Linked DNA regions of Homo sapiens. The protein of the gene in region 2 purifies or fractionates together with the protein of the main gene of each other region. This does not show direct contact. Each region holds a gene or a part of one and is shown on either strand. Other genes may lie near its edges.

Region 1 (3,500 bases), on a different chromosome or scaffold from region 2:
CACCACGTTGGCCAGGGTGGTCTCGAACTCCTGATCTCAAGTGATCTGCCCGCCTCGGCCTCCCAGAATGCTGGGATTACAGGCAAGAGCCACTACGCCCACCCTTGCTTTTACATATTTTGGATGCTTCAACTATTAAGAAGTTATTCTGAGTAAAGAAGGGATTTACTGTTTTCTGTACACTTTTAGCCATTTCTGAAAATAATTTGTAAAGACAAAAACCTAGCATTAGCCTGTAAAGAAATATGCACTTTTGTCTTATAAAACAGAAACTTGAAGCCAAACTTCTTAAATAGGCTTTCCCTTAACTACACTAGATAAAAGACCTGGAAACGGTCAACATATCTAGCAATTTCCAAACTACCACAGGCCATCTCGTTTTCTGAACTTTGTCTTAGACATTAACATTCGAAAAAGGAAAAAAAAAAAAAAAACTTTTAAAAGAATTCTCTATTTTGTCTGAAATAAACTTAGTCTGTGAAAATTTATCTTACGCCTATAAAAATTCCTTAAGCCAATTAAGTCAGCATTAACCCAGCATTTAATATGGTTTTCAGTGATTCTAAATATCTATTTAGATATTTATTTGAGTCAGCGTCTCGCTCTGTTTCCCAGGTGCCACCACACCCAGCTAATTTAAAAAAAAAAAATTTTTTTTTTTGGTAGAGACCGAGTCTCACTATGTTGCCCAGGCTAGTCTTGAACTTCTGGGCTCAAGCAATCCTCCTGCTTCAGCTTCCCAAAGTGCTGGGATTACAAGCATGAGCCACTGCATCCAGACCTAAATGCCTACTTTCTTTTAACTCAGTTTTCATTCACATGAAGGAACTCCAAAAAAAATTCAAGTCTGATTATTGTGATAATGGTATAAAATGTTTGTCAAAAAATGTCATCAGTGAACTAACAAACCAGCTCCTTTCTAAATTAAAATGCTTCTGAATAATCACTATAATTTTAATATTCCATTTTAAATCTCTGTTGAAAACACTGGCCATCTATGAAAAAAAATGTAGTTATCTGGGATTGTAGATTGACCTTATTCACAAAATAAAATTTTAAATGAAAATTAAGTTTCTTGGTGACTTGCTATCTCTCAAGTGCTATTACTGATATAAGTGATTCTTTACTATACTGTATCAGATACCTTAAGGAAAGGTAATTGCCTAAAAAATAATCTGTCAAAAATATGTGCTGTTATGCACTGCGAGTAGAATCATTACATTTAATCATTTAAAGAGTTTAATTATTTTCTTTCATTTTTGGCAGTGAGATGGGGACACTTTCTCTAACATGAACACATTAAGAAGATACACATATTTTGAACAAGAGATTTTAACTTTTTATGGCAAAATTTACTGGTGTCAATTGTATTTTAATTGAGAGGTTAACACCATGTTGCTGTCTCTATTCCACTGAACAAAAATGACTTTGAAATAGAGGAAAAGAATAGCCAGTTTTAACTGGCGATAATTTTTTAAAATCACATTTTCACAACACTACAACATATGGAGATGTAGACAGTTAGTCTTTAACACAGAGTGCTGTAGTATTTTATACTGTGGTGCTTGGGGAAATATTCCTAGTGAATAACCGGCAGTCTGTGCAGGAACCAGCAGTCCACACTTCTAGGTATAAATATGGAGGACAAGCTTCTGCTCACCGCCTCAAGAGAGGTGGACTCCCGAAGGGTAGCCTGTCTCATTTTAAAACCTATACCATGAAACCAATTCCCAGTTCCTACACTCTGTTCTACCTTCATAATTTTTCTTTCTCATATATCTTTCCGCCAGCCATCCAGGCTCCTGCCAGTGATTAGCTTCCACAAGATGATCCACATTTCCCTTCTTTCACACTAAGAAGGACATCTTATAAAATATACACAGATAGAGAAGAAAGGCATTTTATACAGAAGCAGTATAAAATTTACAACTGAAGCAGTGTCAGAAATCAGGTCAACAGCTTATGTGAAGCTGCAAATTGATTGGAAGGGACTCTGAGATCAGAAAAGTCTGGCCTAAGGGTTCGTGCAAACTTTACCATAAAACTGTAGAATCTCAAGCACAAGTAAGTTCAAACACTGAAAGATGTGGAAAATTTCCTAAAAGGCAATGATAAAGGAAGAGACCCTTCTTGACTCATAAGTTTAAAATCACAAGACAAATTAGAGACTGTTCACATGGGCAGTACTACACATTATCAATCCCAAACTGATTTTATGACTCTTGTCATAGAAACCCCCAAAACATCAGGGAGGGTAAGATATTCCAAATGGACCAATCACAAAAAGGATTCCTGTGATTCAACTATCCAATACTTATGGCTATCAATTTAGTCTGGCTTGGGGCTGTTTTTTACAGGGAGGTGGCCTCCCATGGCGCACAATGTGTTTTTCTAAGCTATCCAGAATGGCCACAGCAATCTGTTGGACATGGGGATCAGTATGTTCATGATCTTTGATGTTGTATAAATGCTGCAATCCTCCTTCTTCAATCAGCATGCTGCAATACCTTGAAGCTGAAAAAGAAAAAAAAACACACACAAAACAGGAGAAATAGCTTTTCTTAAAACACTTGAAAATTATTCCACAAAAAAATGACTTCTAGGAGCCATTTTTTTTTAGCTGTTTTGTTATTGATCACTAACATGCTACAGCTTGATAAATAACCTCTATACTGATGTTACGTCTACAGTGCAAGGCCTACACATTCAATCAATAAATAGCTAGCTTGATTTTTCTAACCTCAAGACATGTACAACCTGTATTAAAAAAATAAAAACAATCATAACTACCTTATCTTTGACCCAAAATCACAGGTAAGTGTTGTTATATTTTTATGCATTTCCTATGCTTTTTTTTTTTTTTTAGACAGAGTCTTGCCCTGTTGCCCAGGCCAGAGTACAGTGGCGCAATCTCGACTCACTGCAGCCTCCGCCTCCTGGGTTCAAGCGATTCTTGTGCCTCAGCCTGGAAATACAGGCACATGCCACCACCCCTGGCTAATTTTTTTATTTTTAGTAGAGATGGGGTTTTACCATGTTGCCTAGGCTGGTCTCAAACTCCTGCCCTCAAGCAATCCTCCCGCCTCAGCCTCCCAAAGTACTAGAATTACAGGCATGAGCCATAATGCCAGGCTGCATTTACTATGCTTTTTAAAAACTTAATGGCACTCATACTGCACATACAATTTTTAAATTTTTGAAATATTTTATTAGCCTTTTTTTTTTTTTTTTTTTTTTTAAAGACAGTCTCATTCTGTTGCCCAGGCTGGGGTGATCATGGCTCATGCCCAGTGGTGTGATCATGGCTCACTGCAGCTTGCTGTGTTGCCCAGGCTGGAGTCCAATGGCACAATTTTGGCTCACTGCAACCTCTGCCTCCCGGGTTCAAGCAATTCTCCTTCCTCAGTCTCCTGGGTAGCTGGGACTATAGGCACCAGCCACCACACCTGGCTAAATTTTTGTATTTTTGGTAGAGGTGGGGTTTTACCACGCTGGCCAGT
Region 2 (2,365 bases):
CAGGGCATGAGAAATGGCTGTAGGAGGTCTAGAATGAATGAGACCTGCTGCCTGGCCCAGGGCTCCCATGGCCCTAGAAGTGTGTGGGATAGTTGTCAGCTTTTCCTCTTGCTCATGAGAAAGAGAGGAAGCCAGCGAGGATTCACAACTGTGGTGAGAGGCTACAGCGGAGGATGTGGAGTGAACCCCCAATAGGGAGTTGAATGGGGTGATACATCTCTAGGGCAGAGGGGTCATGCCCAAGGCCAGGCTAGATAAGACACTAGTAGGAGACTGAGAAAGCTGGGAAGCAAACATCCCCTCTGGGAGGCTGGAGGTGGCATTTGCATAAACACTTCTCCAACCCTGCCCCTCAGCCTAGCAAAGACCCCTGTGGGAAGAAGGGGAACAGAGGGCAACGATCTCAAGTGACTGCCTTTAAACCTGAAGTGCCTGAGGCATCAGTAACCTAGAAGTTACCAGAATACATTTCCTGCAAACAACATAGAAAGTAAATCCAGTTATAGCAAAATGATAGAAATTTTATTTTGCACATTTGAGTGTAGGGTCCTAAAATGGGTACCTGCTACCCAAGTGATGAGCTACTGCCTTTGTTTGTTAACTGCTCTTTCCTCCCTCAGCCTCTAGCCTTCTCCTTTCATCCAGCGGTGCTAGAGACCTGGTGTTGATATCCACATTCATAGGCTCTGAGTGATCTGGCATTTTTAAGATGGCAAAGCACTTTTGCATCCTGTGGGCTGTTGTCTGTAGTTCTGGCATATTGCATGCCTGAAGGCAGAGCTAGCACTGCTACCTCCAATACAGATGAGAAAACTGAGACCCAGAGAGATTAATGGTAAGGTTACACAGCAAATTAGAAGGAGTGTAGGACTAAGACCTAGGCTTCCCAACTCCCGGTCCAACTCCTGGGTGGGTCAGGGGTGCAGGTAGATTGCAGAGGATCTGGGATTTGGGGAAGATTCCTGGAATTTAGGCTTGTGCAAGAGGTCATTCCAGGCTTCCCAGCTTAGGGGAGCAGGCCCTGTCCTCCACCTGCAAGGACAAGAATCAGAGACATCTGTGCAGAAGGGATGCTCAGCGGATGACCTCCCTGAGAACAGGAACTACTCATCCTGGGCTGGCATCCAAAGCAGCCACTTTTGCAGTGGAATCTTGGAATAACAATATCACTCCACACTGGGCCTTGCCCTCACTTTGCAAAATACTCTCATGTCCTCTCAGAGCCTCCTGAATGCTCTTTGAGGCAGGCCTGGCTACCTTCATTTTATGGATAGGAAAACTGAGGCTCAGACAGAACATGTGGTTTGCCCAGCGTCTTTGCATGGAAATAGGGAGTTGAATGAAAGCTCAGGCTTTCGAGGACAGAGTGAGGCTAGTCTTCCAGCTGGTCCCTTTTCATATATCCTGGAAAGATAAACTGAATGAAAGGAGCTTTCCGTCCTACTTTTCATTTGTGCCAGAAATGACAACATCCCTTTCCCATCCAGCAAGATAACTAAAGACACTAAATCCTGTTTAGAATTTAAAAAACTTTCTACATTTTTCTCTCACTCTGAGATGCTCACAGTCATAAAGAATGTGTTAGACTTGGGCCAACAGCAAGGTTGTTGAGCAAGTGTTCTGCTTTCAGAGGTGGGCCAGCACCACCTTTTGACAAACGTGGACAGAACCCAAATTGTTTATCTCTGTATCCCGTTCTGTTTATGGAGTCCTCAGTAGGTACTCATGTGTCACGGATGAATGCATGCATGAACAAACAACCTCTCCTTGGCCTCCTCTGTGCCTCAGTGCCCACCATGGAAGCGTCTTCAGAAATCATCTTATCCAGCTGGCTCCTCTTACAGATGAGGTCCAGAGAGGGTGAGTGACCGGCTGGAGGTCACACAGCAAGTTAGAGGAAACACAGGTGCTGGAGGATTACCTCCCTATTTCAGAGCTCGGCCTGAGATCTCATCCAGCCTGTCTTCTGAACCAGGAGAGCAGCTTTAGCCAGGAGAGAAGAGAGCTGTCCTTTATTGTTTAGTTTGCTTTTGAGTCTGGTGCAGCCTTCCAACTGGCATGTTCAGGGTAGCTTCCTGGGCTGTGGGCCATTTTTGGATTGTGAAATCGATTTCCCCAGAGGCCCAGGGCACATCTGCTACCTGCCTTCACCTGGAGAGGAAAGTGGCTCATTTGGGGAGAGCATGTCCAATCTCTATGTTGAAGTAGCACAGATGCTGCCCCATTTGGGGTGTGGAGGTGGAAGGATGCATAGCACAGGGATGCAAGTTTGATGGATGGGAAGACCTGGGACAGGCTGTGTTTCCCATGGGTGCGCTGGGAGGAGGGTGATCCAGGCAGGGAACCAGGCAGAGGCCAGCTGATC
Region 3 (4,268 bases), on a different chromosome or scaffold from region 2:
AGGCTACCCGTTAAAATGAAGATTCCTGGGCCCTATCAAATTAAACTGTGAGGAGGGCGCACGGAGGGCTTGAGATTTAGCATCTTTTAAAAAGTACGTCAGATGATTTATTCCGGGTAAAGTTTGCAGAACGCCAGTCTAAAGAAATTTGGTAGAGCGCCCTCAGTCTCACCAATTAAGACGGAAATCCCTTTAGTAAACGTTTACCCCGTGACCATTTTTAAACTTTCCTTTTTTTGTTGTTTCGGAGACACAGTCTCGCTTTGTCGCCCAGGGTGCAGTGCAGTGGCGCGATCTCGGGTCACTGCAACCTCCGCCTCCCGGGTTCATGCGCTTCTCCTGCCTCAGCCTCCCAAATAGCTGGGATTACAGGCACCCGATACCACGTCCGGTTAATTTTTGTATTTTTAGTAGAGACGGGGTTTCACCATGTTGGCCAGGCTGGTCTCGAACTCCTGACCTAAGGTGATCCGCCCACGTCGGTCTCCCAAAGTGTTGGGATTACAGGCGTAAACTACCGCGCCTGGCCCCATTTTAAAACTTTCTTTATACTTCCTAGCGTTTTAGTGTCTGACATACAGTAGATGCTCAAGATCTGTGGAACGCATGATCAAAAAGATCCATTTTAAGTAACGTTCCCGTAGCCACACACCTCTGCTGCGCTCCAACAGGCAATGCGAGGAGCAACGCAAGAGGGTACAGGGACAAAAAACGACGGAAGCCGAGGTGACAGAAAAGCAAAACCCCAACTCTGGGAAAGGAAGCAACCCCAGGATCGTAGAGCGGAGCCCCTGGTCACATGACCACACGGCCCTCCCCTGACGCAGTCGCGAGCCTACGAAAGGCTCCACCCGCCCCACCGCGGGCGAGGTGACGTCACAGCCGGCACAGCGCCACCGCCCCCTCACCTCGGCCCGAACCGTAGTTCCTCGCCCCGAGCCCGAGACCCAGCGCCAATCCTGCGCCTCACAACGTGCGACAATTGCGAAAAAGCCACCCCCGAGGCCTGGGATCTGGCTTCCTCAAGGCCCCACACCCTCCGGGGCCCGATCCAGTGCCGCCCGGGGCTCTCTTACCGGCCCACATCTCCTGCAGTCTCACTCCTCAAGAGCTGTTCCCGCTCGCCGCGCCTTCAAAGCCACCAATTGCAGTTCCCGCCGCCTCCAAGCTCCGCCCACCGGAGCACAAGCATCAGGCTGTGTCTTGGGCACAGGGGACTGCACGGGGGAGCGACTGAAGCGAAGGTCGCCGAGCCCCCCACGCCGCTCTTCTTAGAAGTGTGCAACCTTGCACCAGTAGTGGACTTACACATAGGCTCCGTTAGGACCTGGCTTATGTGCTCGGCTTGTGGCTTAGACGCTGCCGTGCCCCAGTGGACTCACTGTGCCTCCCCCCACGACGGACGGAAATGGGCCCCTCCAGGACAGGCGGCGCATGCGCCTTGGGGCCCGCGGGCGGCGGGGGCGAGGAGCCGGGAGCACGGTGGAGCGGTGGAGGGCGTCACTGGGTTTCGGCGTCTGGCAAGCGGTTCAGCTGTCTGCTCCCTAGCAGCCGGCCTTCGGGTCGGGCGTCTCCGCCGGCTACTGCCGCTTCAGTTCTCCCGGTGTGGCCACGAGTCGGGTGAGTCTCGGGAGTCCAGGCCGTTCCGAACGCGTTCCGTTGTTCCTCCTCAGGTCCCTGATGGCGCGTCCCGCCGAGCCCCTTCCTGCCGCCCGTCGGCCCCAGGAGGTGGGGACCAGGAAGACCCGGCTGCCGCAGGCCCACAGCCGGGCTGCTGCGCTGGGGAGGCTGCGAGCGAGGTGGCTGGGCGCTCGCTGGAACACGCTGGTGGCCGAGACAGGCCGTGGGCGTCGCTCGGGGTTGGGATCCGCCCGCCACTCACTCAACTGGCTGGTGACCTTGGGCGCGCTCCTCCCCTCCCGGAGCCGGGGCTTCCTCGCCGGTAAAATGGACCTTGAGGAATGGAGCCCTCAACACAGGGTTTGACACGATGAGCGCCCAATAAAGTGTTGTTATTGTTGTTTATCTAGCAATTGAGAATTTGCGGGTAGAAAACGGGGGCCGTTCAAGCAAGTCTCAGCTGCAGTGCCCTGTGATGTGAGAACCCACCAAGAGCCCCATCAGTACACTTTACTCTTTTTTCTCCTTTAATGCTTTTTTTTTCCAGGAAAGTAATACATTCATCTTGCTTTTCTTGCGTTTAAAGATCAGGCGTTTTACGTAGAGTCTTAAGTAAATCAGTTTTGGAAGTCTTCATTTAAAACCTCAAAGGCATGGAAGTTTTCGATGGCAAAGGAATTATGTTGTGATGCCATTCGTATCTCCTCTCCTTTATATGTATGGCTTTTGCACTTGTTTAGTTGATTTAAAATGAGTTTCTTTTTCATCCTTTTCCTACTGCGTTGAGGCCTGAACTAGTTGTCAGTTTCTGACATTCCGCGAACATCGATTGGGCATTTACCATGTGCATTGGCAAGAATGCTCCCTCACGAGCCTGTGCGTTCCTTGAGATGTGTGAACGAGTATTTTCCTCTGAAATTCACATGATTCTGGCAGAGTGCTAGGCACCTTGTAAGTCCTGGTAATGTTTATTCAGGGAAAGCTGCGAGGGCGCATTCTCTGAGAAACTCTTCGGTGGAAGTCAGAGTAGTTAAGCCCTTCTCCCTAGGCAGCACCCCCGGGTCCCTCCCAGAAGCAGCCTGGCATGGGGTCTACAGTGCCAGCGCCAGTCGCTTTCTTAGTGGTATCGGTTTAGAACTGGTCCTGTGATAAGTGGAAGTGGGCAGGGGAGGCCGTCCCCGACCGTGTCTGCGACCTCTGCTGCAGTATGGCTCATAGCTTGAAAAGTTGAAAAATAATTCTTTAATACCAGGGCCGAAATGTAGGCCTTAAAAATGTTTTATGTTATTTATTTATATATATATATATTTAAATTTTATTTTGAGACGGCGTCTTGTTTTGTCGCCCAGGCTGGAGTGCAGTGGCGCGATCTCGGCTCACTGCAACCTCCACCTCCCGAGTTCTAGTGATTCTCGTGCCTCAACCTCCTGAGTAGCTAGGGTTACAGGCCACGCCTGGCTAATTTTTGTATTTTTAGTAGAGACGGGGATTCACCATGTTGGCCAGGCTTGTCCTGACCTCAAGTGATCTGCCTGCCTCGGCCTCCCGAAGTGGTGGGATTACAGGCGTGAGCCACCGCGCCTAGCCTAAAAAGATATATTTTAGAAAGCGGAGTGTTTACAGTTTTTTTTTCTGGAGAACAGTTTCTTCAGACTCTGCACAACAGACTTTTCTGGCCTTGTTTTTTGCTTATTTTGCAGTAGCATTAGAAATTACAACTGTAGTGTAAATTTCCTGTGCAGCCGCACAATAGGAAAATCTTTCTAAAGAAAAGCCAACTGGCATTAAAATACAGGGTTCTTCCTTGTGATTATAGATTTGCTGAAGTGAGTTATTAGAATGCTTACCCGTTTTCTTTATACTAGAGTTAATACAGCGCTGGCTCTTGGTTTATTTTCTAAAATTGTGCCACCTGGTGGTTGAAATCTGTCTTAGACTACTCTTGAGGAAAATTGTACCTCAGAGTCAGTAGACAAAGATTGAAGGAGTGAGTAAAAGAAAGCTATAATTTTTATATCTTCACTAAGAGTACCCTACCGCTTCTACCCTCCCAGCTTACTCCCCAGGAAAAGTTAAAATTGCCCTTATGGGCCCCTTAGCTAGCTATCAAAACACATTTGACAGCTGAAAATTTTAAGGAATTTCAGTGGACTGTTTTGGTATCATTGTGTGCATACACAGTGGATGGGGCTGGATTGAGGAGGGAGGTGGTGGAATCGTGACAAGTTTACCTTTTTGATGTTTTCTTAAATGCCATTGTAAAGATGAGACTGACAAACTGATGGAAGTCAGAGTAGTTAAGCCTTCCTCCCCAGGCAGTCCCTGGGGTCGCTCCCAGGAGCAGCCTGGCTTGGGGTCTGCACTGGAATTAAATATTATTCTATTCAAATAATAACAGTTTGAATGGAATTTATCCCTCTCTATTTCACTGGAAACATCCAAGAACGAGGTCTTATGTTCCTTTCACTTTCGTTTCCACCATGCTGCTGATGTTCATAATTATTATTTTTTGAGATGGAGTCTCACTCTTTCGACCAGGCTAGAGTGCAGGTGGTGCCATCTCAGCTCACTGCAACCTCTGCCTCCAGGGCTGAAGCGATTCCCCTGCCTCAGCCTCCCAAGTAGCTGGATTACAGGCCCCCACCACC
Region 4 (3,500 bases), on a different chromosome or scaffold from region 2:
AACCATCATTCTCAGCAAACTGTCGCAGGGAAAAAAAACAAAACACTGCATGTTCTCACTCATAGGTGGGAATTGAACAATGAGAACTCTTGGACACAGGAATGTGAACATCACACACTGGGGCCTGTTGTGGGGTGGGGGGAGGGGGGAGGGATAGCATTAGGAGAAATACCTAATGTAAATGGCGAGTTAATGGGTGCAGTACACCAACATGGCACATGTATACATATGTAACAAACCTGCACGTTGTGCACATGTACCCAAGAACTTAAAGTATAAAAAAAAAATTTATATATCAGGGCAATTAAAATCGTTGTTAAAAATTTACTGTAAATGATTTTTAACAGCAGCCTAATTTATTGTATGCATGTACTATTATTTACTTAATATAAATGCCTAATAATAGTGGAATGATAACCTATTCGCTTAGCCTTGTGATAAATACCTTTGTGGTTAAATTTGTATTCTAGATTATTTCTTTTTTTTTTTTTTTTTTGAGACGGAGTCTCGCTCTGTCTCCCAGGCTGGAGTGCAGTGGCGCCATCTCAACTTGCTGCAAGCTCCGCCTCCCAGGTTCACATCATTCTTGTGCCTCAGCCTCCCGAGTAGCTGAGACTACAGGCGCCTGCCACCATGCCCCGCTATTTTTTTTGGTATTTTTAGTAGAGACAGGGTTTCACCGTGTTAGCCAGGATGGTCTCGATCTCCTGACCTTGTGATCCACCCGCCTTGGCCTCCCAAAGTGCTAGGATCACAGGCGTGAGCCACTGCGCCCGGCCTAGATTATTTCTTTAAAGTAAATTTTCAACAGTGGAATTAATTGGGCCAAAAGGTACAGGTTTTTTTTTTCCCACAAATGTAGCTAAACTGCTTTCTATCTAACCATGTTCTACCAATTTGTATTTAATGTAGTTTCACTCTGACACATTCATATTTTTTATCTGGATAGTTTGCAGAGGGGAGAACTTGATAAAATTAACATTCAGTTTGGTAAAGATGATGCACAGTATTTTTTAGATTTTTTTTTTTTTTTTTTTTTTGAGACAAGAGTCTTGCTCTGTTACCCAGGCTGGAGTGCAGTGGCACAATCTTGGCTCACTGCAGCCTCCACCTCCCAGGCATAAGCAATTCTCCCACCTCAACCTCCGGAGTAGCTGGGATTACAGGTGCACGCCACCATACCTGGCTAATTTTTGTATTTTTTGTAGAGACAGGGTTTCGCCATGTTGCCCAGGCTGGTCTGGAACTCCTGAGCTTAAGTGATCCGCCTGCCTCGGACTCCCAAAGTGCTGGGATTACAGGCCTGAGCTGCCTCACCTGGCTGGATAAATTTTTAATATTCTTAACATTTATAATTGCATACAAAAAACCCTAGCAATTTGTCTCAAATTTCATGCATAGGATCAAAAGAAAATGTTTTATATGACTCATAAGTTATCCTGAGGAACCAGATAATGATACCCTGGCTTACTGTTAATTTTCTAATTTGTTACACTATTAAACTAAGAGACAATAACATCTTCATAGCTGAAAATTCTATTTCAGATTTTTGATTCAGTTTGAATTTACATATTTGTATTTTTAGAACTAGTTTATTATTTTTTTGTTAGGTGATGAATCAAGATTGGTTCTCTAAGTTATTTTAATATAGTAAACTTTGAAATTGCTTTGGGCAAGAGAGATTATATTTATTGAGAAATTAAAATAAAAGGAGGTATGTGGTCTTTTTTAGTTAATTTTTTTGTTGTGGCAAAAATATAAAATTTATCATCTGAACCATTTTTAAGTATACAGCTCAGTAGTATTATAAGCATATTTAGGTCATTATGAACAGATCTCCAGAACTTTAGCCTCCTGAAAAGATCCAGAGACCCCTGGAGCTTCTCCTACTATACTTTGAAGAACCTCTATCTTAGAGAATATATTACTTCATCTGGAAAAGACAGACTCACAGAGAACTCTAGAAATATAGTCTTTTAAAACATATCATCTAAAAGATTAATAATTCTTTTTATCATCTTATCCGGTCTGTGTTCATATTTCCCCATTGTCTAATAATGTTTTCGTAATTTTTTGAAATTAGGAGCCAAACCAGGTTCACACACGTTACATTTGGTGGTTGATATACCTTTTATTTTTTTTTAAATTTATTTTTCTGAGATGAAGTCTTGCTCTGTCACCCAGGCTGAAGTACAGTGCATGATCTCAGCTCACGGCAACTTCTGCCTCCCCAGTTCAAGTGATTCTCCTGTCTCAGCCTCCCGAGTAGCTAGGATTACAGGCGCGTGCCACCACGCCTGGCTAATTTTTTATATTTTTGGTAGAGACAGGGTTTCACCATGTTGGCCAAGCTGGTCTTGAACTCCTGATCTCAGGTGATCTGCCTGCCTCGGCCTCCCAAAGTGTTGGGATTACAGGCGTGAACCACTGGGCCTGCCCTTGATATGCCTTTTAAATTTTAATCTATTGATTGTCTCTTTGTTTATAATTTATTTGTTGAAGAAACAGGGTCATTTGTTCTACATAATTTTCCTCATTCTGGTTTTGGCTGAGTGTATCTCTGGTAAAATTTAACATGTTTTTCAGTTCTCTGTATTTCCAGTAAATTTATAGGTAGAGACAGGCTTGATTAGATTTACTTTCAATTCTTTTTTGGCAAGATTCCTAGTTGGTGATGTGTATTTCTTTACATCAAGAAGATGTGTTTTGTGATGTTAAAATCAAACAGTTTAGCTGTTGTCAGATTGATTCATCCGTTGTAAAATTCCCAATTAACTTTTCTCTAATGATAGCATCTATTGCTAATTGTTGCCTCATTGCAGTATATTAGTAGGTGTTGTAAAAGGTGATATTCCTTCTCCAGCCTTCTGAATTTATTGGCTGGGATTCTTCAGGAAAGAAGACCTCTTCCTCATATACCACTTTATTACCCTGAAAGTATTTATACAGGAAAGGCCAAAATAAAATGGGACTTTTTTTTTCTTTTTACCTACATATTCCCAGAATAATTAATTTGTGCCTTAGGAGCCTCAAAACATGACTAGAGTTTTGTTTGTTTGTTTAGAATTATAAACTCATGGATTTTTGCCTCCCATTCATTTTCGATGTTCAAATTATTCTTTCTTTGACCAGTGGCAGCTTATTTATGTTGGCTCCTTTGTCCTTGGCACAATCCCAGTGGTCTGTAGTAGTTTCCTAAAATATACAAGATGAAGCTCATCTTGTATATTTTCTTCCCCAGATTTAGAATCAGAATTCTAATTCCTTTCAGTGGGAAATGGTATTTAGAGATTATAATCTGGGTGATATTTTTGTATATTCCTACAATGTTGTCATTGTTTATAGGCCTTTTGATGGACAGAACTAGGAAAACTTTATAGAAAGAGAAAAATAATTCATGTGTTCCAGATGCTATTTCTTTTTTTTTTTTTTTTTTTTGAGACGGAGTCTCGCTCTGTCGCCCAGGCTGGACTGCGGACTGCAGTGGCGCAATCTCGGCT
Region 5 (3,500 bases), on a different chromosome or scaffold from region 2:
TATAAGGTGGAAGGGAATAAAACTAGTCACAAGATAGTTGTGGGGGATTTTAAAGATGTAAGTTAGTATCTCTATTAAGCTATTTGACATATGATAAACAAACAGTATTCTTCTGCAGGAAGTAGCAAAACAAAATGACATTTGACAATGTTAGCTTCTCTCATTAACATGGTGTGTTTAGCTTATTAGCCAAGATAAGCTGTAGACCAGGTTTTTACCCTTTACACGTGAAATTTGAGGCATTAAATGAGTAAAAGAATTGGGATTCCTTTTCCATCTTGGTGATCAAAACACTTTTCTCTTGTTTCCTTGGACCAAGTGATGAAGAGGTGGTGAGGGGACAGCAAAAAATGCAATTACATTTCTTCTCTTTATTTTTATTTTTTGAGACAAGAGTTTTGCTCTTGTTGCCCAGGGTGGAGTGCAATTGTGCGATCTCGGCTCACCGCAACCTCCACTTCCCAGGTTCAAGCGATTCTCCTGCCTCAGCCTCCTGAGTAGCTGGGATTACAGGCATGCACCACCACATCTGGCTAATTTTGTATTTTTAGTAGAGACGGGGTTTCTCCATGTTGGTCAGGCTGGTCTTCAACTCTTGACCTCAGATGATCTGCCCGCCTCGGCCTCCCAAAGTGCTAGGATTACAGGTGTGAGCCACCACACACAGCCCCCTCTTCTCTTTCTCTGATCACTCCAATACTCGTTCTAATTGGGAGGAATGGATTTAACTAATCTTTGGTTTTTATCTCTGTGTAGAAACTGATTTCTTGGCAGAATGGACTGTTAATATATTTAAAAAGACTGAAAACCTCTTAGAATCTTAAGTAGTAAAATATTCAGAGCGAAGAAGTAGAGATTTTACCTTTACAATATGGTGACAACAGATAACTGTAAAAACTTCTTTTTCAAATAGAACCAGCAGGAGCATGCATGGAACACATATACCAAACATCTTTCTGATAACATTAAACATTTTTAAAAGATGTTAAATGTTCTTTTCATTGTGGTGCTTCAGATTCCTGATTCTAGAACTTGTGTGTGTGGAACCTGTGTGCTAACTATTCTGTTGGAATTTACCAGCAAAGAATTATCTAAGAATTTTCAAACTAAATGATGGGGGAAGGAACTAACATTTTTGCAGTCCCTGGAAATGTAAAATGTTGTACTCACATGGCCTCACATTAAATTCCCATTAAATTGACATTTAAAAAAATTTTTTTATTTTAAAGGAAACGGAAGGACGATGAGATTAAATAACTTGCCCAAGGATTCTGGGTGGGTGTGCTGTGGAGGTGGGATTTTTATACTCTGCCATGACCCAATGTGCAAAGTCTCCTTGAAATTCAATTCTTGTCCAATATTTACCAGATTAAACTCAGTGAAATTCCTCTCTCTACTACTGTTTATGGTTATTTTCTATGCCAATATTAATCGGTAAGCCTGTCATTTTCGCCCTTGTGGCATCGAGTTTTCTTTGAAGGACAGCTTTTTTGTTTGCTTTTTGTTTTTTGTTTTGCTTTGTTTTGTTTTGAGGCAGGGTCTCACTCTGCCCAGGCCATAGTGCAGTGGCTGATCTCGGCTCACTGCAACCTCTGCCTCCCAGGCTCAAGCCTCCCCAGTAGCTGGGATGATAGGTGTGCACCACCACGCCTGGCTAATTTTTGTAATTTTTGTAGAGACGGGGTTTTGCCATGTTGGCCAGGTTGATCTTGAACTCCTGACCTCAAGTGATCCACCCACCTCGGCCTCCCAAAGTGCTGGGATTACAGGTGTGAGCCACCACACCCGGTCTTTAAAGGACAGCTCCAGAATTAGCTTTTTTCTGAGATGTCATAACAGAGGTCAGTTTTAGTGTTTGGTTAATACATAAACACATAGAACTGAGGTCAGTGCCTTCAGCATTGGTCTGAATTTTGTTGCTGTGCTACAAAATTCTAGTGAATTTCCTAGTTGTGGAGAAATGCAAAGTCAGTCTCGGCCTTTTCAGTAGAGCTTTGGTTTAGTGACTTTTTTAGTTGAAGTGACTTTTCAGCATGGATTGTCTATTGCTGTATTTTTTTAACTGCTTTATTTTAATCTTAGAAGTTCCAACTTCTAACTTTCTATACCAAATGATGTCTTTCAAAATTAGAAGTAACAGAAATGAATGAAATCGGCTGGGCATGGTGGCTCACGCCTGTAATCCCAGCATTTCGGGAGGCCGAAGTGGGCAGATCACCTGAGGTCAGGAGTTCAAGACCAGCCTGGCCAACATGGTGAAACCTCATCTGTGCTAAAAATACTAAAATTAGCTGGGCATGGTGGCAGGCTCCTGTAATCTCAGCTACTCGGGAGGCTGGGCAGGAGAATTGCTTGAACCTGGGAGGCGGAGGTTGCAGTGAGCCGAGATTGTGCTGCTGCTGCACTCCAGCCTAGGTGACAGACTGAGACTGCATTTCAAGAAAAAAAAAAAAAAAAAGAAAGAAAAGAAAAAGAATGAAATCATTAAACTGTATGCTCATTGCTTTCTCTTGGTAAAAAGCTTCTCTGGCAAATAGGAAGATGAAATGTTGAGAGGCAGAGGATACTCAAAATACTGAATTTCTTCCTTATTCCCTCAACACCTGAGTTCTGAACTACCCCAGGTGGCACCATCCTTGTAACCCAGGCGCATAACATTCCTGGGCTGAGAGCTTTGCCCCATTGCCGGCTTCTCAGTGGAGTTCCTTCTATCCCCTCTGTGGTGCCTTCCTGCCTTACTGAATTTTGCTGGACTTGGCCTTTGCTCATAGTACAGCTCCACGAACTCAGCTAGTAGGATTTCCTTATGGGTAAAAGGAGAATGTGAATGGCATACTACCCCATGGTGCTGTTGAGATTACATATTTTATGTAATATATTTATGAGTAGGATTGTGCTTGATACCTAGGAAACAGTTAATAGATGTTGTAGGCAAGGTCTTCACGCATATGGTCTTGGGAAATAATGAGACAATCCTGCTTTTCGAGGGTTCAGGTGGGTCCTATGAGCGTCCCTCTGATACCTCAATATAACCAGTAGAGGTAAATTAGCAAAATGCCAGGGGCGTTTGTTAACTTTGTTTGAAAAACAAACTGGATTGAGACATATTTTCTTACTTATAACTTGATTACGTGTGTTCATTTTCGACCCAGAAACAAATCGCAGCTGGGCATAAAACAAAGAATAGAATGTGGCCTTAACTATGTGTCAGAAAAGCCAGTTTTAGTAACTCAGATTTTAGGTTTGTAACCCAACATGACTTTAAACCTCTGGGGATTGCTGTATAGAATTTCATGCTGTGGGTGTCAGAAAGCAGCACCCCATGTTATACTTACTGGACCCCCTATGTTTGCACTTTATCTTAGTGTCTGTAATTTCTAAGTTGGTGTATGGGTTTCTATTACTGGATTGAGAGAAGATCCTAAAGGCAGACCTGTTAGGTTTCCTGTTTCTTATTTAGCTCAACCTAAGGGACCCAATGTATTTTGAAATATCAGAGC
Region 6 (3,500 bases), on a different chromosome or scaffold from region 2:
TTTTGGCTGTGTTGATTTTTCCACTGGCTTCTCTGCTCTCCTGTTTCACACTGGGGCGACTGCTATGGACTTCCTTGGCCCAGCCCTCTGAGGCACGTGTAAGAGATCAGTACTGGCTCAGCTTTTATAGATAGTGCCAAACTGTCTTCCAAAGTGTTCACCACAGTTTACAATGGCACACTATGTTTAGAAAGCGTTTTTTAATATGTCTTCTCTTCCCATTTATTTTATACATTTTTTCTACTATAAAAGAATTACATGCTTATTATAGAAAAGTTTTTAGAAAATGGAAAATAGTACAGAAAAAAGTTGTCCATAGTCCCTCCACCCAAAACAGCTCCGGCTAGCATTTTTATGTATTCTTCCAGGACTTTTTTTCATGTTTGGCTGGTGATTTACTATTGTTGTTTTAAAGTAGTGGTTAGTATAAGTTTTCACTATGTAATGGTTAGTATATGTATTTGGAGTGCCTGCTTTTGTTGTTTTGACATGACTAATGTTTCCCATATTATGTATCCTAGTAAACTTTTTTTTTTTTTTTTTTTTTTTTTTTGAGACAGAATCTAACTCTGTCGCCCAGGCTGGAGTCCATTGGTGTGATCTCGGCTCACTGCAACCGCTACCTACCAGGTTCAAGCAGTTCTGTTGCCTCAGCCTTCCCAGTAGCTGGGACTACAGGCACGCATCATCACCATGCCCGGCGGATTTTTGTATTTTTGGTAGAGACAGGGTTTCACTATGTTGGCCAGGCTGGTCTCGAACTCCTGACCTCAGGTGATCTACCCTCCTTGGCCTCCCAAGGTGCTAGGATTATAGGCGTGAGCCATAGTACACATAATTTTTAATGACTAGATAATGTTCTACCAGAGAAATGTACCACAATTATCTTTTACCTATTGTTTTACAATTCATTTGGAAATAAAAATTTTCTGTAATTTGTTGTTACTTGTAAGAAAGTTATAGCCAGGCACAGTGGCTCACACCTATAATCCAGCACTTTGGGAGGTTGAGGCAGGAGGATCACTTGAGTCCAGCAGTTGGAGACCAGCCTAGGCAACATAGTGAGACCCCATCTCGTCTCTTTAGCTGCGCCTGGTGCATTCCTGTAGTCTAAGCTACTCGAGAGGCTGAGGTGGGAGGATTACTTGAGCCCAGGATGTTGAGACTGCAGTGAGTGGTGATCATACCCCTACGCTTCAGCCTGGGTGACAGGGTGAGATCATGTCTCAAAAAAAAAAAAAAAGTTATAGATCAGAGGAACAGAATAGAGAATCCAGAGGTAGGTCCATATTATAGTCAACTGATTTTTTTTTTTTTTTTGAGATGGAGTTTTGCTCTTTCGCCCAGGCTGAAGTGCAGTGGCAGGATCTTGGCTCACCGCAACCTCCGCCTTCCGACTTCAAGTGATTCTTCTGCCACAGCCTCCCAAGTAGCTGGGATTATAGGCGCCCGCCACCACGCCTGGCTAATTTTTGTATTTTTAGTAGAGATGGGTTTTCACCATGTTGGCCAGGCTAGTCTTGAACCCCTGACCTTGTGATCCGCCTGTCTCGGCCTCCCAAAGTACTGGGATTACAGGCGTGAGCCACTGCACCTGGCCTAGTCAACTGATTTTTGACAAAGGAGTAAAGGCAATTCATTGGAGAAAAGAGTCTTTTCACCAAATGGTGCTGGAACAAGTGGACATTCACATGAAGAAAATTATTCTGGATGCAGATCTTATACCTTTCGTGAAGATTAACTCAAAATGAATGTTTAGTGTGTTTTCACACTGCTATAAATAGCCAAGACTGGATAATTTATTTATTCATTTATTATTATTATTATTATTTTTTTTTTTTTTTTTTGAGACTGAGTCTCTTTTTTTTTTTTTTTTTTTTTTTTTTTTTTTTTTTTTTGAGACGGAGTCTCGCTGTCGCCCAGGCTGGAGTGCAGTGGGGTGATCTCGGCTCACTGCAACCTGTGCCTCTCAGGTTCAAGCGATTCTCCTGCCTCAGCCTCTGGAGTAGCTGGGATTACAGGGCGCACGCCACCACACCCCACTAATTTTGGTATTTTTAGTAGAGACGGGGTTTCACCATGTTGGTCAGGCTGGTCTTGAACTCCTGACCTTGGCCTCCCAAAGTGCTGGAATTGCAGGCGTGAGCCACCATGCCCAGCTGACTGGGTAATTTATAAAGGAAAGAGGTTTAATTTACTCACAGTTTCACATGGCTGGGGAGACCTCAGGAAACTTACAGTCGTGGCAGATGGTGAAGGGGAAACAGGCACCTAGGTTCTTCATGAGGCAGCAGGACAGAGAAGAGCAGGGGAAACTGCCACTTACAAAACCATCAGATCTCATGAGAATTCATTCACCCTGACGAGAACAGCACGAGGGAAACCGCCCTCATGATTCAGTCACCTCCCACCAGGTCCCTCTCTTGACATGTGGGGATTACAATTCGAGATGAGATTTAGGTGGGGACACAGAGCCAGACCATATTGATGATTCGTAGACCTAAATAAAACACAACAATATAAAACTGGAAGAAGGTAACATCAGAGAAAATTGAGGTGGCTTTGGGTTTGGTGATGACTTTATAACACCAAAAGCACTATCTATTAAAAAATTGCTAAGTTTGGCTTTATTAATATAAAAAACTTCTGCTCGGTGAAAAACACTGTTAAGGAAATGAAAAGACAAGCCACAGACTGGGAGAAAAATTTTGCCAAACACATACCTGTTCAAGGTCAGGTATCCAAAATATACAAAGGACTCTTAAAACTCAATAATAAAAAACAACTCAATTTAAACATGGCCCAAAGACCTTGACAGACACCATGAAAGAAGATAACGCAGATGGCAAATAAGCATAAAAGGAAACCTTCAGTGTGGTACGTCAATAGGGAACTGTAGATTAAAGCAGTGATTGAGATGCCACCACATACCTGTTAGAATGGCTAAAATCCAAAACACTGAGAATAGCCTGGGCAACATGGTGAAACCCCATCTCTACCAAAAAAATACAAAAAATTAGCTGGGCATGGTGGCTTGCGCCTTAGTCCCAGCTACTTGGGAAGCTGAGGTTGGGAGGATCCCTTGAGCCCAGGAGGTCGAGGCTGCAGTAAGCTGTGATCGCACCACCTCACTCCAGCCTGGGTGACAAAGCGAGACCCTGTCTCAAAAAAAACCCAAAAACACTGATAATACCAACTGCTGGCAAGGATGTAGAGAAACAGGAAGGAACTCTCATTTATTACTGGTAGGACTGAAAACTGGCACAGCCACTTTAAAAGTCAGTTTGGCAGTTTCTTATGAAACTAAATATGTTATTATATGATGCAGCGATTGTGCTCCTTGATATTCACTCAAAAAAGTTGAAAACTTACATTCACACAAAAGCCTGCAGACAAATGTTCATAGCAGCATTATTCATAATTGCCAGAACTTGGAAGCAGCCATTCATTTCTTCAGTAGGTGAGTGGATGAATGGATAAACAAAATGTAGTGTATCTGT
Region 7 (3,500 bases), on a different chromosome or scaffold from region 2:
GAAAAGAAAGAGAGATCAGATTGTTACTGTGTCTGTGTAGAAAGAAGTAGACACAGGAGACTCCATTTTGTTCTGTACTAAGAAAAATTCTTCTGCCTTGGGATGCTGTTAATCTATAACCTTACCCCCAACCCCGTGCTCTCTGAAACGTGCTGTGTCCACTCAGGGTTAAATGGATTAAGGGCGGTGCAAGATGTGCTTTGTTAAACAGATGCTTGAAGGCAGCATGCTCGTTAAGAGTCATCACCACTCCCTAATCTCAAGTACCCAGGGACGTAAACACTGCGGAAGGCCGCAGGGACCTCTGCCTAGGAAAACCAGAGACCTTTTTGTTCACGTGTTTATCTGCTGACCTTCTCTCCACTATTATCCTATGACCCTGCCACATCCCCCTCTCCGAGAAACACCCAAGAATGATCAATAAATACTAAAAAAAAAAAAAAAAATTAGCCAGGCAGGAGGGGTAGTGTGTGGGTGTGTACCTGTAGTCCTAGCTACTTAGGAGGCTGAGGTGGAAAGATCACTTGAGCCCAGGAGTTTGACGCTGCAGTGAACCACGATCACTCCACTGCACCCCAGCCTGTGTAACAGAGCAAGACCTGGTCTCAAAAAATAAATAATAAAGTAAAACATTTTCAGACTGGCTAACAAATGAAAATCCAGTGCTATGCTATTTATAAGAGGCATAGCTAAAACTAAGATTTGGAAAGGTAAAAATAAAGAGATAGTCAACTGATCTTTGACAAAACGAGCAAAGGGAATACAATGGAGAAAAGATAGTCTTTTCAACATGGTGCTGAAAAAATTGGATATCCATCTAGACACAGACCTCACGTTCTTCACAAACATTAACTCAAAATGGATCCTAGACCTAAATGCAAAATGCAAAACTATAAAACCCTTAGAATATAACATAGGAGAAAATAAAAATAACCTTAGGTTTAGGAATGACTTTTTAGATATAACACCAAAGGCATGATCCATGAAAAATTAATTGATAAGCTGGACTTCATTAAAATAAAAAATTCTGCTCTGTGAGACACTGTCAAAAAAAGGCAAGCCACATATTGGGAGAAAATACTTTCAAAAGACATATCTGATAAAAGACTATTATAGAAAACATAAGGCTGGGCACGGTGACTCATGCCTGTAATCCCAGCACTTTGGGAGACCAAGGCGGGCAGATCACCTGAGGTCAGGAGTTCGAGACCAGCCTGGCCAACATGGCAAAACCCCATATCTATTAAAAGTACATTTGTATAAGTATATAATACATATTTACATGCCTATACAGTTAGACCTAACTTACAAATGGTTTATTCACGTATTTGGCAACTGTTACTTGGGCATTTACCATGTAACAGGAATGCTACTGCAGAAGTGCTTAGTTTTCTGTCTCTGACTGTCCAGGAGCTTAGTGCTCTTCTATAATCATTGGCTAACTTATCTGTCCTCTGAAAACATAAGGAGAGTTTTTAACTCAGACTTTGGAATTTGGGAAAGGTTCTTAGAGAAGAGTGACATTTGAGCTGTTGTAAAGGATAAGCAGTCAGAAGGATAGGCATGGAAGTGGAATGGGATAGGAGGGAGATTTCATGGCAGAGGACGTAAGCTGTAGATGGAATGAGGATAAATAGGATGAATTGGGGAAAGGAAAAATACTTCAGAATACTTGGAGCAATGGGTACATAAGACAGTAGGGGAGAAAGGCTGGCAAAGTAGGGAGAGGCCAGATCACAATGGGTGTTGTGAGTGCCAAAGAAGAGTTTGAACTTTATCCTGAAAGCTGTGGAACATTTTTCAAACTTCTTTTTTTTCTTCTTTTAAGTTGTAGAGAGGGAGTCTCATCTTCTTGCTCAGGCTGGTCTCAAACTCCTGGGCTCAAGCCGTCTTCCCAAAGTGCTGGGATTACAGGCATGAGCCACTGACCTCAGCCAGTTTTCAAACTTCTAAATAGGGGAGTGATGATAGGATAGATAGAACATTCTCTTAAGAAGCTTGGCTATGAAAGTGAAGAAACAGTTAATAGAGAAGTTTTTTTTTTTGAGACAGAGCCTCTCTCTGTCACTCAGGCTGGAGTGCAGTGGCTCGATCTCGGACTTCCACTCCAGGGTTCAAGCAATTTTCTGCCTTAGCCTCCCGAGTAGCTGGGATTACAGGCGCCCACCACCACGCCCGGCTAATTTTTTTATTTTTTTAGTAGAGACAGGGTTTCACCGTCTTGGCCAGGCTGGTCTTGAATTCGTGACCTCATGATCCACCCGCCTTGGCCTCTCAAAGTGCTGGGATGACAGGCGTGAGTCACGGTGCGCAGCTTTTTTTTTTTTTTTTTTTTTTGAGACAAAGTCTTGCTCTTTCACCTAGGCTGGAGTGCAGTGGCACAATCTCGGCTCACTGCAACCTCTGCCTCCCAGGTTCAAGCGATTCTCCTGCCTCAGCCTCCCGAGTACCTGGGACTACAGGTGTGTGCCACCACGCCTGGCTACTTTTTTTGTATTTTTAGTAGAGACGGGGTTTCTCCGTGTTAGCCAGAATGGTCTCGATCTCCTGACCTCATGATCCACCCACCTCGGCCTCTCAAAGTGCTGGCATTACAGGTGTGAGCCACCATGCCCGGCCGAGAAGTTTTTTAGCATGGAAGACTTGAGCATGATTTTATGGTGAGGGAGAGAACACATTCCAGCATTTTCTCACAGCCACAGAATTACAGTGGTGAATTTTTAGGCCAATCCCATACCTATTTGCTTCTGTGCCCACATAAAATGCATAATATGTACTACAAATATATAAATATATTGCAGATAAACCCACCTCAGTCTTATTCGTTACATAGCAATTTATAGATTAGTTGAAAATAGTACTTTGTTCATTAGATTCTTAGCATTGTATATTCAGAAGATTTCATATTGACAGGTCCATTTAAGGTCCTCTGTACCACTATCTGGAATTTTACGGACAAAAATGTTAATACTTTTCAAACATCTGTTCCAAAAACAGTATTCCAAAAATATGTATTCCAGGCCAGGCATGGTGGCTCACGCCTGTAATCCCAGCACTTTGGGAGGCCGTTCGAAACCAGCCTGGCCAACATGGTGAAACCCTGTCTCTACTAAAAATATAAAAATTAGCCGGGTGTGGTGGCGGGCACCTGTAATCCCAGCTACTTGGGAGGCGGAGGCAGGAGAATCACTTGAACCCTTGAGGCGGAGGTTGCAGTGAGCCATGATTGCGGCACTGTACTCCAGTCTGAGTGACACAGCAAGACTCTGTCTAAAAAAAAAAAAAAAAAAGTATTCCTATGGGTATAGGAAAAAGACTAAAATAAAGTGCTATCAAATGTTTTAATTTGGGCCGGGCATGGTGGCCCATGCCTGTAATCCCAGCACTTTGGGAAGCCGAAGCAGGTGGATCATTTGAGGTCAGGAGTTCAAGACCAGCCTGGGTAAAATGGGGAAACTCCATATCTACTAAAAATACAAAAATTAGCGGGGTGTGGTGGC

What was found.
Region 1: the proteins of ISX (region 2) and ZYG11B purify together in Homo sapiens (co-immunoprecipitation; one large-scale study listed by IntAct). This does not show direct contact.
Region 3: the proteins of ISX (region 2) and CMC2 purify together in Homo sapiens (affinity purification with mass spectrometry; one large-scale study listed by BioGRID and IntAct). This does not show direct contact.
Region 4: the proteins of ISX (region 2) and DCK purify together in Homo sapiens (affinity purification with mass spectrometry; one large-scale study listed by BioGRID and IntAct). This does not show direct contact.
Region 5: the proteins of ISX (region 2) and BASP1 purify together in Homo sapiens (affinity purification with mass spectrometry; one large-scale study listed by BioGRID and IntAct). This does not show direct contact.
Region 6: the proteins of ISX (region 2) and SEPHS1 purify together in Homo sapiens (co-immunoprecipitation; one large-scale study listed by IntAct). This does not show direct contact.
Region 7: the proteins of ISX (region 2) and KGD4 purify together in Homo sapiens (co-immunoprecipitation; one large-scale study listed by IntAct). This does not show direct contact.

The regions. Positions count from the first base shown.
Region 1 is NC_000001.11:52,820,453-52,823,952, reverse strand, and holds part of ZYG11B (protein zyg-11 homolog B), read right to left. Parts: intron 2,515-3,500; coding exon 2,324-2,514; 3' UTR 1-2,323. UniProt on the Homo sapiens protein: Serves as substrate adapter subunit in the E3 ubiquitin ligase complex ZYG11B-CUL2-Elongin BC. Acts to target substrates bearing N-terminal degrons for proteasomal degradation with the first four residues of substrates being the key recognition elements.
Region 2 is NC_000022.11:35,085,523-35,087,887, reverse strand, and holds the end of ISX (intestine-specific homeobox), read right to left. Parts: coding exon 2,195-2,365; 3' UTR 501-2,194; downstream 1-500. UniProt on the Homo sapiens protein: Transcription factor that regulates gene expression in intestine. May participate in vitamin A metabolism most likely by regulating BCO1 expression in the intestine.
Region 3 is NC_000016.10:81,004,086-81,008,353, reverse strand, and holds the start of CMC2 (COX assembly mitochondrial protein 2 homolog), read left to right. Parts: upstream 1-1,468; 5' UTR 1,469-1,620; intron 1,621-4,268. UniProt on the Homo sapiens protein: May be involved in cytochrome c oxidase biogenesis.
Region 4 is NC_000004.12:71,017,649-71,021,148, forward strand, and holds part of DCK (deoxycytidine kinase), read left to right. Parts: intron 1-3,500. UniProt on the Homo sapiens protein: Phosphorylates the deoxyribonucleosides deoxycytidine, deoxyguanosine and deoxyadenosine. Has broad substrate specificity, and does not display selectivity based on the chirality of the substrate.
Region 5 is NC_000005.10:17,269,631-17,273,130, forward strand, and holds part of BASP1 (brain acid soluble protein 1), read left to right. Parts: intron 1-3,500.
Region 6 is NC_000010.11:13,324,294-13,327,793, reverse strand, and holds part of SEPHS1 (selenide, water dikinase 1), read left to right. Parts: intron 1-3,500. UniProt on the Homo sapiens protein: Synthesizes selenophosphate from selenide and ATP.
Region 7 is NC_000005.10:69,220,760-69,224,259, forward strand, and holds part of KGD4 (alpha-ketoglutarate dehydrogenase component 4), read left to right. Parts: intron 1-3,500. UniProt on the Homo sapiens protein: Molecular adapter that is necessary to form a stable 2-oxoglutarate dehydrogenase enzyme complex (OGDHC). Enables the specific recruitment of E3 subunit to E2 subunit in the 2-oxoglutarate dehydrogenase complex (OGDHC).